Linked DNA regions of Homo sapiens. The protein of the gene in region 1 purifies or fractionates together with the protein of each later gene. This does not show direct contact. Each region holds a gene or a part of one and is shown in the gene's direction. Other genes may lie near its edges.

The links. The genes of interacting proteins can lie anywhere in the genome.
Region 2: the proteins of HNRNPCL2 (region 1) and KIF23 purify together in Homo sapiens (affinity purification with mass spectrometry; 2 studies listed by BioGRID and IntAct, with this or other methods). This does not show direct contact.

Annotation. Positions count from the first base shown.
Region 1 is NC_000001.11:13,114,979-13,120,757, reverse strand, and holds HNRNPCL2 (heterogeneous nuclear ribonucleoprotein C-like 2), read left to right. Parts: upstream 1-3,903; 5' UTR 3,904-3,965; intron 3,966-4,176; 5' UTR 4,177-4,357; coding exon 4,358-5,239; 3' UTR 5,240-5,270; downstream 5,271-5,779.
Region 2 is NC_000015.10:69,417,310-69,424,348, forward strand, and holds part of KIF23 (kinesin-like protein KIF23), read left to right. Parts: intron 1-73; coding exon 74-202; intron 203-4,337; coding exon 4,338-4,443; intron 4,444-4,682; coding exon 4,683-4,819; intron 4,820-5,016; coding exon 5,017-5,126; intron 5,127-5,849; coding exon 5,850-6,020; intron 6,021-7,039.

The DNA of each region.
Region 1 (5,779 bases):
TCAAGAGATTCTCCTGCCTCAGACTCCTGAGTAGCCAGGATTACAGGCACACACCACCACACCCAGCTGATTTTTGTATTTTTAGCAGAAACGGGGTTTCACCATGTTGACCAGGTTGGTCTTGAACCCCTGACCTTGTGATCTCCCTGCCTCAGCCTCCTGAAGTGCTGGAATTATAGGCTTGAGCCACCTTGCCCAGCCTAATCTTTTTTTCTTTTCTCAAAGGACTTCTATGCACTTAGGAGAGTGAGCCCATCGTTCAGTAACAACATGATTCAATACTGCAAGACCTTGATGCAGTATTTCAAAGTCTTTCCAGTAGGTGAGGGAGGCTTTCAGTGATGCTTAGACCTTCATGCCCTAGAATTTGGAGATTGCATCCTTTAGAAATGATACCAAGGGAAATCTGCCCATGAGCAGCACTGGATGGGACTGTACCAGATGACTTAAAACTAAGGATAACCAAGGAAAAGCCTTCCTTAGAAGCAGACATCATCACATGGTAGACAGTTTTCCAAGACAATGGAACAAGACTCCATTTGATCTTCTTCCATTGACTGAGACTTGGTTTTGTTTTGTATTAAAACAAAATGCTCAAACCTATATTTTATGTTGTTAGGTACTTTCTCCACTCAAACCAAACACTTTCTAAGGTCTTCTGTTCAAAATGTAGCCACTCTCACTAACCAAAGCAATTGCTGGCTATGGAGTCATTTACATGAAAGGGAAGGATCACAACTAAATAGTAGAACATGCTCTCATAAACAGTTGGGTAGCAATTGAGGATGCCAACTTCATGATAAGGTTTGTTATCCTTCCTTTGGAAGGTTGGTTAACATTTATAATTACATGACTTGGCACTGAGAAGAAGCTATAGGTGCAAATGGGTGGCCTATGACTATTATTGATTACATTACTGGCATTTTATCTCTATGCATAAAAAACATTAGTGAAACTGGATCTAATCTAGGTAGTGTCGCAGATTCCCACTAGAATCAAACTCTTTGGTTTGACACACCTTATGAAGACTGGAGTGCTATAGGTATCGACATAGACATAGAATCAGAACATGACCATGTTACCCTCTGCCATTTAATCAGAGAACTTACTGAAACTAGACATTGGTTCATTGGAAACTCTAGAGGCAAATAGAATGTGTCTATAGCTCTACTATGTGAAATACATAATAGTTTTATTTATTGGATGCATCAATACTCAGGACATATTTGGAGAGGAACCTATTCATTCTTCAATGCAGATGGCATGCAAGGATTACTTTATAAAACTCATAGAAATACTTTTTCTTCCCACCCCAATTCAAACCATTACCATGCAACCTGGTATCAATAGAAGTTAAGGCCATTGAGGTAGAAATAATTAAATAAAGCTTTATTGGAAGCTAAATGTGAGAATCGACCTGGAAGACACACACTGACAAAGTGAGTGTTTTCCAAAGTCTGTTACAAGTTGGAATGCTTTTGTAAGAGAGGTTAAAAGAAGGGAATGGGACTCCTCCTATCAATTTTTTTTAATTTTCTTTTGTTTTATTGACCTGGCAAGGCTCAAATAGAGTTGAGTTTTTGTTTTTGTTTTTCCCATTGGAAGGTACAAGACAGAGGTTACAATCGTTAGCTTTAGATGACAACATAACAGGCTAAAACATTTTCCTTGCAAGACAACCAGCATGACTTCATGATCAGAATAAAATCAGTGTCCTTCTCACTGTCAGCGGGTGAAGACTTCATCAGTACTTGTAGAGTTTGAGGTACTCATGAACTCATGATCAGATTCTTTACTCAGGGACAGGATGTAAGCCAATGCTAAGACCTTCTATAGGTGGCTAATTTTTAAGCTTGCCCCAATGAGACCTTCAGGTTTTCACTGGCAATATGCAGGTGCAGATATGACAAAGAATAACAATGACCTTCATATCACCTCCAGCTGTTGAGGAATGGGATCCTTTTCACCCTTCCTGTCCATAAAACCAAGTTACTCATCTTCAGTGGCAACAAAATATATGGTAAACTTAACAGAGAAGGAGACTGTCAGAAAAAAAAAAAAAAAAGATGTGTTTATCCTGAAATGAGGAAAGCAATGGGAATAGATGTGAGATTATTTTGGGAGAAAAAGGAAGACAAAGGTTTTGAAAGGAAAAATAAGGAGGATTATACAAATTGTTTTGAAAGACTCAACCTTGGTCCTAAGAATCAAAAGTAAAGGGGCATCAGTGAAATGTTGGATAGATTCCACCTCCACCCCCTCAGTAACCCCCAACATGTTTACCAAGTCTTGGTTAACTCCCAGGATCCCATTAAAACACCCAGCTCAACCATGCCCATCCTCTACCCTCACTTCTCTTTGTAATTTTGACATGATTTTATTACAGGACCATCAGGTTCCTATGCCTGCTGCACAGTAGCTGACCAATATTCTGAGACAGCAGTGTTTGCAGCAGACAGTTTAATGATCACAGGGTGGCTAAATGAGAAGCTAGGAGGATATCCTCAAATTCATCTCCCCAAGTAGTACTGAGGGTTTCCAGTGGATCCTGGATAGCAAGGGGCTGGAAAGTTGGTGTAGAGGTAAGAGGGATGAAGTCATCAGGATGTCAAAACTGCATTCTTTGGTGAGTTGGTGCCTTGCAGAGCCCTTCAGATCAGCTGGCATCAGTAGTTTCACTGACATGCAGAACCTGAAAGAATATCTCAAATGAGAAAGTTAATGTTTTACAAGGCTTAAATTGTTGTCTGCAGGGTAGTTAAGGGGAACTGTAAGCTAAGGTCTACTTGATTTGGGGACAGTAAGCTGCCAGCAACCATGAGGAAGAAGGTCAGAGAGCAAGCTGACCTCATGGTGAATGCTGAATGCGCTGCAAGCTTGGTTTATTTTTGTTTCTCCCCCTCCCTTCTTCACTGATTAAACTTATAAAGTTTACAGGTATCATTTCAATTTCTTCCAGAGAAGACTTAACCTAAGCCCTGAGACCACTCAAGCCCTCAGTGGCACCTCTCTTCCACCAGCACGAGTGAAGAAACTGCTACCTTAGGTGATATAAAACCCACAAGACCATTCCATACATGGAGATCTTTATTCTTATTTTGTAGGGACGACTCCTCTGTGTTTATACAGCTATTTTAACTAGAAATATTTTTATAAATTTTATAATTTTGATGTGGCCAAAGATCTCCCCACAACACTACTTTCAGGTTTTATTTTTCTGTCTAATGTCTGGAACAGATCAACCCCTTCCCTGCCTCACATCAGGACTTGAAGGCGAAATAGCAGTAAAATTCCATCAGTGTTTGTGGATTTCATGAATGAATGCATTTTTTTTGACAAAATCTCCCTCTGTCGCCCAGTCAGGAGGGCAATGGTGTAATCTTGGCTCACTGCAAACTCAGCCTCCAGGGTTCAAGGGATTCTCCCACCTCAGCCGCATGAGTAACTGGACTACAGGCAGCCACCATCGTGCCTGGCTAACTTTTCTATTTTTGTAGAGACAGGGTTTCACCATGTGGGCCAGGCTGGTCTTGAACTCCTGACCTCAGGTGATCCACCTACCTTGGCCTCCCAAAGTGCTGGGATTACAAGTGTGAGCCACCTCACCTGGCCTTGAGTGAATGAATTCTTGATTTCCACTCTATCCCTAACTCTGTCAATTTCTTAATTCATAAAATGATTATGCATATGTGATATGAATGGATATCTCGTTCAATCCATTAGTCTTCGGACAGTCAAAAACCCAATCAGGATTAACTGAGTGGAGCTTCAGAAATGCAATCAGATATCGCTTTTTGATTGGAAGCTAGCAGCGGATACGTGGAGGGGCGTGGGTGGGAGTTGTGATTAGAAAGGTCAATAAAAGCTTCTAAAGACCCACAGGACAAACTCAAAGTCTTCAAGCCTGGAGTTCCTGCTTGGCTCTTCCTGAGGTCTGAGCACCTTCTAAACTACAACCAGATCTGGTAAGTCACTAATTTCTGTAAGGACACTCCCATGTGACCTACAGTCAGCCGGTCTAGAACGGTGACAGTGCAGCCTACGATGGCATAGAACTATATCATGTCTTTTTTTCTTTTTTTCATATGAACACTTTGAAGCTTTGATTTTTTTTTCTAAATGCAATTTTGTCGTGATTTCAAAAATGTTGTTGTGCTTTTCTTTACATCATTTCAGAATTCTTGTTGGCAGCCATTTTGTGAAGAGACGAAGACTGAGCTGTTTTGGCTGCATTTCTGGCCTCGAGCCGCAGTCAGTTTCTCCCCGTAGAACCCGGCAGTAGGAGACTTAGAATCGAATCTCTTCTCCCTCCCGCCTCCTGTTTTTGGCTTTTTGAGAAACCTTATCATCCAACACAATGGCCAGCAACGTTACCAACAAGATGGATCCTCACTCCGTGAACTCCCGTGTGTTCATTGGGAATCTCAACACTCTTGTTGTCAAGAAATCTGATGTGGAGGCGATCTTTTCCAAGTATGGCAAAATTGCGGGCTGCTCTGTTCATAAGGGCTTTGCCTTCGTTCAATATGATAAGGAGAAAAATGCCCGGGCTGCTGTAGCAGGAGAGGATGGCAGAATGATTGCTAGCCAGGTTGCAGTTATTAACCTGGCTGCAGAGCCAAAAGTGAACCGAGGAAACGCAGGTGTGAAACGATCCGCAGCGGAGATGTACGGCTCCTCTTTTGACTTGGACTATGGCTTTCAACGGGATTATTATGATGGGATGTACAGTTTCCCAGCACGTGTACCTCCTCCTCCTCCCATTGCTCTGGCTGTAGTGCCCTCGAAACGCCAGCGCATATCAGGAAACACCTCACGAAGGGGCAAAAGTGGCTTCAATTCTAAGAGTGGAAAGCGGGGATCTTCCAAGTCTGGAAAGCTGAAAGGAGATGACCTTCAGGCCATTAAGCAGGAGTTGACCCAGATAAAACAGAAAGTGGATTCTCTCCTGGAAAACCTGGAAAAAATTGAAAAGGAACAGAGCAAACAAGAGGTAGAGGTGAAAAATGCTAAGTCAGAAGAGGAGCAGAGCAGTAGCTCCATGAAGAAAGATGAGACTCATGTAAAGATGGAGTCTGAGGGGGGTGCAGAAGACTCTGCTGAGGAGGGGGACCCACTGGATGATGATGATAATGAAGATCAGGGGGACAACCAGCTTCATTTGATCAAGAATAATGAAAAAGATGCTGAGGAAGGAGAGGATAACAGAGACAGCACCAATGGCCAGGATGACTCTTAAGCACATAGTGGGGTTGAGAAATCTTATCCCATTGTTTCTTTACCTAGGAGCTTGTCTAACAACAAATTTTTCACCAGATCCTCTCCCTTAGTATCTTCAGCACATGCTTACTGTTCTCCCCATCCTTGTCCTTCCCACATTCATTAATTCATATTGCCCTGCGCCTAGTCCCATTTTCACTTCCCATGACACCCCTAGTAGTTTTCCTAAGTCTTACCCTGTAATTTTTGCTTTTAATTTTGACACCTCTTTATGACTTAACAGTAAAAAGGATGTATGGTTTTTATCAACTGTCTCCAAAATAATCTCTTGTTATGCAGGGAATACAGTTCTTTTCTTTCATACATAAGTTCAGTAGTTGCTTCCCTAACTGCAAAGGCAATCTCATTGAGTTGAGTAGCTCCTGAAAGCAGCTTGGAGTTACAAGTATGTGTGTTACACCCCATATTAGTGTGCTGTGTGGGGCAGTTCAACAAAAATCTAACAATGTATTTTTGTGAATGAGAGTTGGCATGTCAAATGCATCCTCAGAAACATAAT
Region 2 (7,039 bases), on another chromosome or scaffold:
GAATGAGAAGCTTAAGTGAAAAATCAGGCAAAAGGTCGAACTTTCTTCTTAAAGCACCTTCCTATTTCTTCAGGTATACTGTAGGGTGCGCCCACTGGGCTTTCCTGATCAAGAGTGTTGCATAGAAGTGATCAATAATACAACTGTTCAGCTTCATACTCCTGAGGGCTACAGACTCAACCGAAATGGAGACTATAAGGAGGTAATTCTGATTTGGACCAAGTTGTTTTTACTCAATATGTTGTTTCCTGAATGACTTCTAGATTTTTAGATGTAACAAAGTTCATTTGTGAGCCCACATTTTCAAAAGACTTATTTACTTCATTATAACCACTGTATCTAAAGTGTTTTTGACTTCTGGGATGCACAGACATACCTTTGGTATGCTGGGGTTAGAGGATTGCTTTTAGCAGATAATTTCTTACACTGAGTATTATTGTTTCTTAGAGCATGTGTTAGGGATGATTTAATGTGGAATGATACATGATTGTGCTAGGCAGTTTTATATATACAACTTGATGTGTGGAAATGAAAATAACATTTAATAATAGACATTGTTTACTTGCATCAACCTCCTATGCAGTGTTTTTATTTTTAGTAAAGTTTTGAGTCAGCTCAAAAATATTGTTTAGCAAATGTGCTAAGCTAATAGTTGGAGGGTGGAAGGAGATTAAAAAAAAGAGCATGACATACTCCTTGCCTTTAGAAAGTTTATAACTTAAGATATATGGTAAACAAATAATTCTCATATAAATAAGACAGAAAGTTAGATGTGCTAAAGATGAGGGGACCGTGGGAATGCAGTAGGATTAATTCAGGCTACCATTTCTACTTCTAGCTGTCACTCACTCTTTTGTGCCTACTATTCCTGTGAAATTGCTCTTCAGAAGACTACCAGTGGCCTCTTTGCTGCTAAATTTGATGTATACCTCTTCATCCTCATTTTAACCTGTTTGTCAGCAGCACTCTCCTGTCTCCCCCTCCAGCTCTCCTTGTATCTCCAGCTGAAACCTTTTCTCTGGCTCTCAACATTCAACCACTTACTTGATATCTCTGCTTGGATGTCACATGTGCATCTCAAATTTTACATGCCCAAAAAGGAGTTCTTGATTTTTCTTATTCCCTCTCTAAATACTTCCTCCCTTGTTTTCTTCTCAAGGAATGGCACTATCGTGTGTCCAGTTGCTCAAGCCAGAAACCTGGTACCTACCTTTTACTTGCCTCTCCTTATAACTAGTTCATTAGTAGCTCCTATCAGTTATATTCCAACATGTGTCTTGAAACTGTCCTTTCATTTCCATCTCCACTGCCACCACCCTAGTCTGAGCCCCATTATTAATCACTGAGACCAGAGCTACTGTAATGAAGGAGTAGCTTTTTTATTTTTAATGCGTCACAGCTGAGACTTTTGTACAACTTGTGCTAGATGGAACTGCCCGTGTGAGTTAGACAATAGGGAACTAGTTCATAATCTCTTCATAGAGATGAGCCTATTGAATACATGCTGAAATACTGATAATTGAGCAGTGCCAGATGGAGGCTCATGCCTGCAGTCTCAGCACTTTGGGAGGCCAAGGTGGGTGGATCACCTGAGGTCAGGAGTTCAAGACCAGCCTGACCAATATGATGAAACCCTGTCTCTACTAAAAATACAAAAATTAGCCGGGCATGATGACGTGTGCCTGTAATCCCAGCTACTCAGTAGCCTGAGACAGGAGAATCACTTGAACCCAGGAGGCGGAGGTTGCAGTGAGCCGAGATCGCGCCATTGCACTCCAGCTTGGGCAACAAGAGTGAAACTCCATCTCAAAAAACAAACAAACAAAGAAACAAACAAACAAAAAACAACTTTCTAAACATTTAAGTAGTCTGGTAACCAATCTCAGACTGGCATTGGTTTGCTGAGTGTGCTTTGGGTATCATTGACAAGACTTCCAAAGCCCAACTGCCTCCACTTGGAATCTTCTCTAATCCATTTCTACAGAGCAGACAGTGATCTTTTAAAACATAAAATCTCATTTTCCTGTTCAAAACCTTTCAAAGAATAAAATCTTTGAACAGACAAAATCCTGCTTCATCCGTCTCCCATCTGTCTCTCCACCTTCATTCATCTTTTAGTATTCATCCAATCCTTTGAGTTTCTTGGATAAGGCAGAATCCTGGCTGTTAGCTGTTGCCTTAACCTGGACTTCTCTTTTTCTGGGTCTTAGCATGGGTCATCGTTGGGTTTCAGCTTAAATATCACCTCCTCGGGTTGTATAGACTACCCAATCAGAAACAGCACCCCACAACCCCTCTCCCCTGGTCTGTACTCTGTATGCCTCCTTTACATTACTTAACCACAATCTATTTGTTTACTTGTTTATTGTCTTTCCTCTACCATAATGTAAACTTCCAGGGAATATGTACCTTATATGTTCTGTTCATCAAATAGTAAATATGGCTTCAGCAAGAATGAATGGTCTGGGAGGGTTTTTTGGAGGAGCAGGTCTTTAAGGATATAATATAGTTAAACACTGATTTACTGAGTTTTACTTCTTTAAGTAAATTTCAAGTATGTATAAATATAGGTATCGAGTAGGTATCGAGTAGGTATAAAAAGGTTTGATGGGGATTAAAAATAGTCACTGCTTTCTGACAGAAGGCAACATTGTATAATGAAAAGAGCATTGCTGCCGGGCATGATGGTTTACATGTGTAATCCCAGCACTTTGGGAGGCCGAGGCAGAGGGATTACTTGAGATCAGGAGTTCGAGACTAGCTTGGCCAACATGGCGAAACCCCATCACTACTAAAAATACAAAAATTACCCAGCGTGGAGGCATGCGCCTGTAATCACAGCTACTCGGGAGGCTGAGGCAGGAGTATTGCTTGAACCCAGGAGGCAGAGGTTGCAGTGAGCCGAGATCCTACCACTGCACTCCAGCCTGGGTGACAGAGTGAGACTCTGTTTCAAAAAAAAAAAGAAGAAAACAAAAACATTGCACTGATGATGGCTTTGATACTAATTAACTCCATGGGCTCAGAGAAGTTTCACCTTCGGGCCTCAGTTTTCTTTACCTTGAAAGGAGGGAGTCATTCATGAGGACTGTGAGGTCATCTATCTTCTCAGTATTAGCCTATGTGTATCCTTTCAGTTCCAAGATTCTTTGTTCTTTTTGAACTCTAAAGCTGATTTTTACAGGATATTTTATTAATTGTATTTAGAGAGCCTTGATAATTGAAGTATTCTTGCTTTCTTAAAGGTCACAATTTATTTAAAATGTATTTCATGTAAGAACTCAGAGATGAGATAATATTTACAGTTTACTTCTGGTTTTAAACTATAGTACATCAAAACGTGGTATTATGCTGCTATGCCATTTTATTTTATATGTCTTTTTTCTTTTTCTTTTTTGAGACAGGGTCTCACTTGTTGCCCAGGCTGGTGTGCAATGGTGTGACCACAGCTCACTGTTTTTTGGTGAGGTTTTTTTGTTGTTTTTACTTTTAAAATTTTTTATTAGATGAGCTTGCCCAGGCTGGTCTCTTAACTCATGGCCTCAAGTGATCCTCCTGCCTCAGCCTTCCAAAGTGGGATTATAAGTGTGAGCCACTATGCCCATGCTTTGCTATTTTAAATGACACCTTTATAAAGAAAAACTAGGAAACAGTAAAGTTGTGTATGACATAATGCTTGTAGATTTCCACAAATCTGTGACTATGAATCGTTACAATACCTTTTGATCTCTGTCACTTAATTAAAACAAAATCAGCCTTAGATTAGAAGCATTAGTAGACTTAAGACTTTTCTACATTTTTGGCCAGGTGTGGTGGCTCACGCCTGTAATCCCAGCACTTTGGAAGGCTGAGGTGGGTGGATCACCTAAGATCAGGAGTTTGACACCAGCCTAACATGGTGAAACCCGTCTCTACTAAAAATATAAAAATTAGCCAGGTGTGGTGGCACGTGCCTGTAATTCCAGCTACTTGGGAGGCTGAGGCAGGGGAATCGCTTGAACCCAGGAGGCAGAGGTTGCAGTGAGCCGAGATTGTGTCATTGCACTCCAGCCTGGGCAACAAGAGCAAAACTCTGTCTCAAAAAAAAAGAGTTTTCTACATTTTCTTTAGTAGTTGTGACTGAAAACGTTTACCAGTTTATAATTGGTATGATATAGGTATGTCATGACTTTTTAGTAACTAAATAACTAAGGGTTCCAACTGTAAAAAGACCATTTATATTTTTTCTTTGCATGCTTAGATCTTAAATGTCATAAACACCTTAAGTTTAAGGAGATGTATTTTTAGCCTAGATAATAGTGGAATTCTATTTAGTGCATTTTTTTCTCTCTCCACAGACTCAGTATTCATTTAAACAAGTATTTGGCACTCACACCACCCAGAAGGAACTCTTTGATGTTGTGGCTAATCCCTTGGTCAATGACCTCATTCATGGCAAAAATGGTATGATATGACTCTTGGAGTTTTGTTAGATTTTCCTTTTTCTCCTCTTCTGATAAAACTTTTTTGATATTTATATATTTGATTTATGTTTGGTGTTGAATCCATATTTAATTTGTTAGGGTGGTGCTAAACTTGCCTTTTTTGAGCTGGCTAATTGTTAGTGTTTTCTAATGCAGTGAAGAAATACTCTAAGTGGAGAACTTCTAAGATATAACTCATTGTGACTTGCTACACTGTAGGTCTTCTTTTTACATATGGTGTGACGGGAAGTGGAAAAACTCACACAATGACTGGTTCTCCAGGGGAAGGAGGGCTGCTTCCTCGTTGTTTGGACATGATCTTTAACAGTATAGGGTCATTTCAAGCTAAACGATATGTAAGTATGATTCTTTTGTGTTGTGACTATCTTACTGGACTAAGACACCTATGGATACAGTAGTAGTAAAGAAGAACCAAAGCACTGGATTCATTTTGAAACCTTAACTGTTCCTTAGTTTTTAAACATATTTCTTACTATTTAAGTTAAATTCTAAAAAACGTGGTGTGATTTTTTTTTTTTTGCCCCCACTTCAGGTTTTCAAATCTAATGATAGGAATAGTATGGATATACAGTGTGAGGTTGATGCCTTATTAGAACGTCAGAAAAGAGAAGCTATGCCCAATCCAAAGACTTCTTCTAGCAAGTAAGTAATTATATTTGTCTGCAGCACTGGCCTAGGGGCACAGGATTCTTTCCTGTGGTTTGCCCAGACATGAGGAATGGTGAACATTAAATAGAGAAGTTGACTTTTGTGAGATTAAAGTTAAGGAATGTTCTTAAGTTCTTTGCTCAGATGTTTTCTCTTTGGCTTTGAGCACATTTTGTTTCAATCACTGTTTTAAGAGGGTGCCACTCTGGATGGGGAGAGGGTATAAAAGCCATTGTTGTGTGTTCGGGAGGACGTGGGAATACTGTTGGCAAACCATGAGTATGAATAAAGCTGCTTTGTGCATTTCTGCTTGTAATTGCAGATATTTATTTTATCTGTTAGTTTCCCCTTGGGATCAGTTACTTTTTTTTTTTTTTGAGACAGAGTCTCACTTTGCTGCCCAGGGTGGAGTGCAGTGGCATGATCTCGGCTCACTGCAACCTCTGCCTTCCAGGTTCAAACGATCCTCCTGCCTCAGCCCCCCTAGTAGCTGGGATTAGAGGCACACGCCACCATGCCCGGCTAATTTGTATTTTTAGTAGAGACGGGGTTTCACCATGTTGGCCAGGCTGGTCTTGAGTTCCTGATCTCAGGTGATCCGCCTGCCTCGGCCTCCCAAAGTGCTGGGATTATAGCTGTGAGCCACCATGCCCGGCTGGGATCATTTACTTTTAAAATGGACTTATAACGTATACAATTGAACTTTTCTTTTTTTAGACGACAAGTAGATCCAGAGTTTGCAGATATGATAACTGTACAAGAATTCTGCAAAGCAGAAGAGGTTGATGAAGATAGTGTCTATGGTGTATTTGTCTCTTATATTGAAATATATAATAATTACATATATGATCTATTGGAAGAGGTGCCGTTTGATCCCATAAAACCCAAGTAAGTAATAAAGAGAGCCCCTTCTTAGCTGTTAATGTTGGGGAAGTTACTTTGCCTCAAGGAGTTTTAGTTTCTTCAGTTATGAAAGAGAATAATGCTTGCATTTGTTTTCAGAATGAAATGATATAATTTGTATATCACGTGGTTTTGTGTTTGAGTATGTTTATTATTAACTAGATATGTACCTGTATTAGGGAACTAGTGGGTTAAAGCATCTAAGGAGAAGAGGGACCCAAATATTCATCTTGGAGATTACTTTTGAAAACTCTGGGCCCTGGGCTATGTTTTGAGAAGGATCTTAATTATATAATTAAGAACGTTTCAAGAACCTGAGACAGTAAAAGGAGTTTTGTAGGCTCTTTAACCACCCGTGTCTTGGTGATTTCTACAGACTGGAGCCTAAAGCTGTTATCTATACAAGTAATACTTACATATCTTCTATCATTCATTAATATGGTATGATATCTGCACTGTAATTCCATCAGAGTTGAAATACTACTTCCTAGATTTCCTTGGGTCTTGCCTTTCTGAGACGTAAGACTGGTTACCACTTGGCATCACAAATGATAAATCTGCATTTGTGCCAGAGTTGACCCTGGGATCTTATGTTTAATATTAGTATCTTGTTCCTGAGTTGATGGTTTTGTTTTTCAGCTAAAGGCTTGTCTTTAATGCTGTCTTTATTAGGGCCTCTCAGGACATAAATAATACGAAGACCTGTGGCTTATATTTAACTTTGTATATCTAAGGGAACATTATTGGAGAAACAGCTGGATTTAGAAAATCATTAGACTGAGAATACATACCAGTATATCCACTTTTAATTACATGAAGAATTTATGGACTCTGGTTGAGGCCATACTTGATACAAGCATTTCTGTGGTTCTTAGTGAGTCACATTTTGATACAGTTATCTTCACCAGAGTCCTTGAATTTTCATCACGTTTATTGGGAAAACAATTACAATATGGCTAAGTAAGCTAAATGTAAAAATATTAACACTCTTAATACTAAGAGTT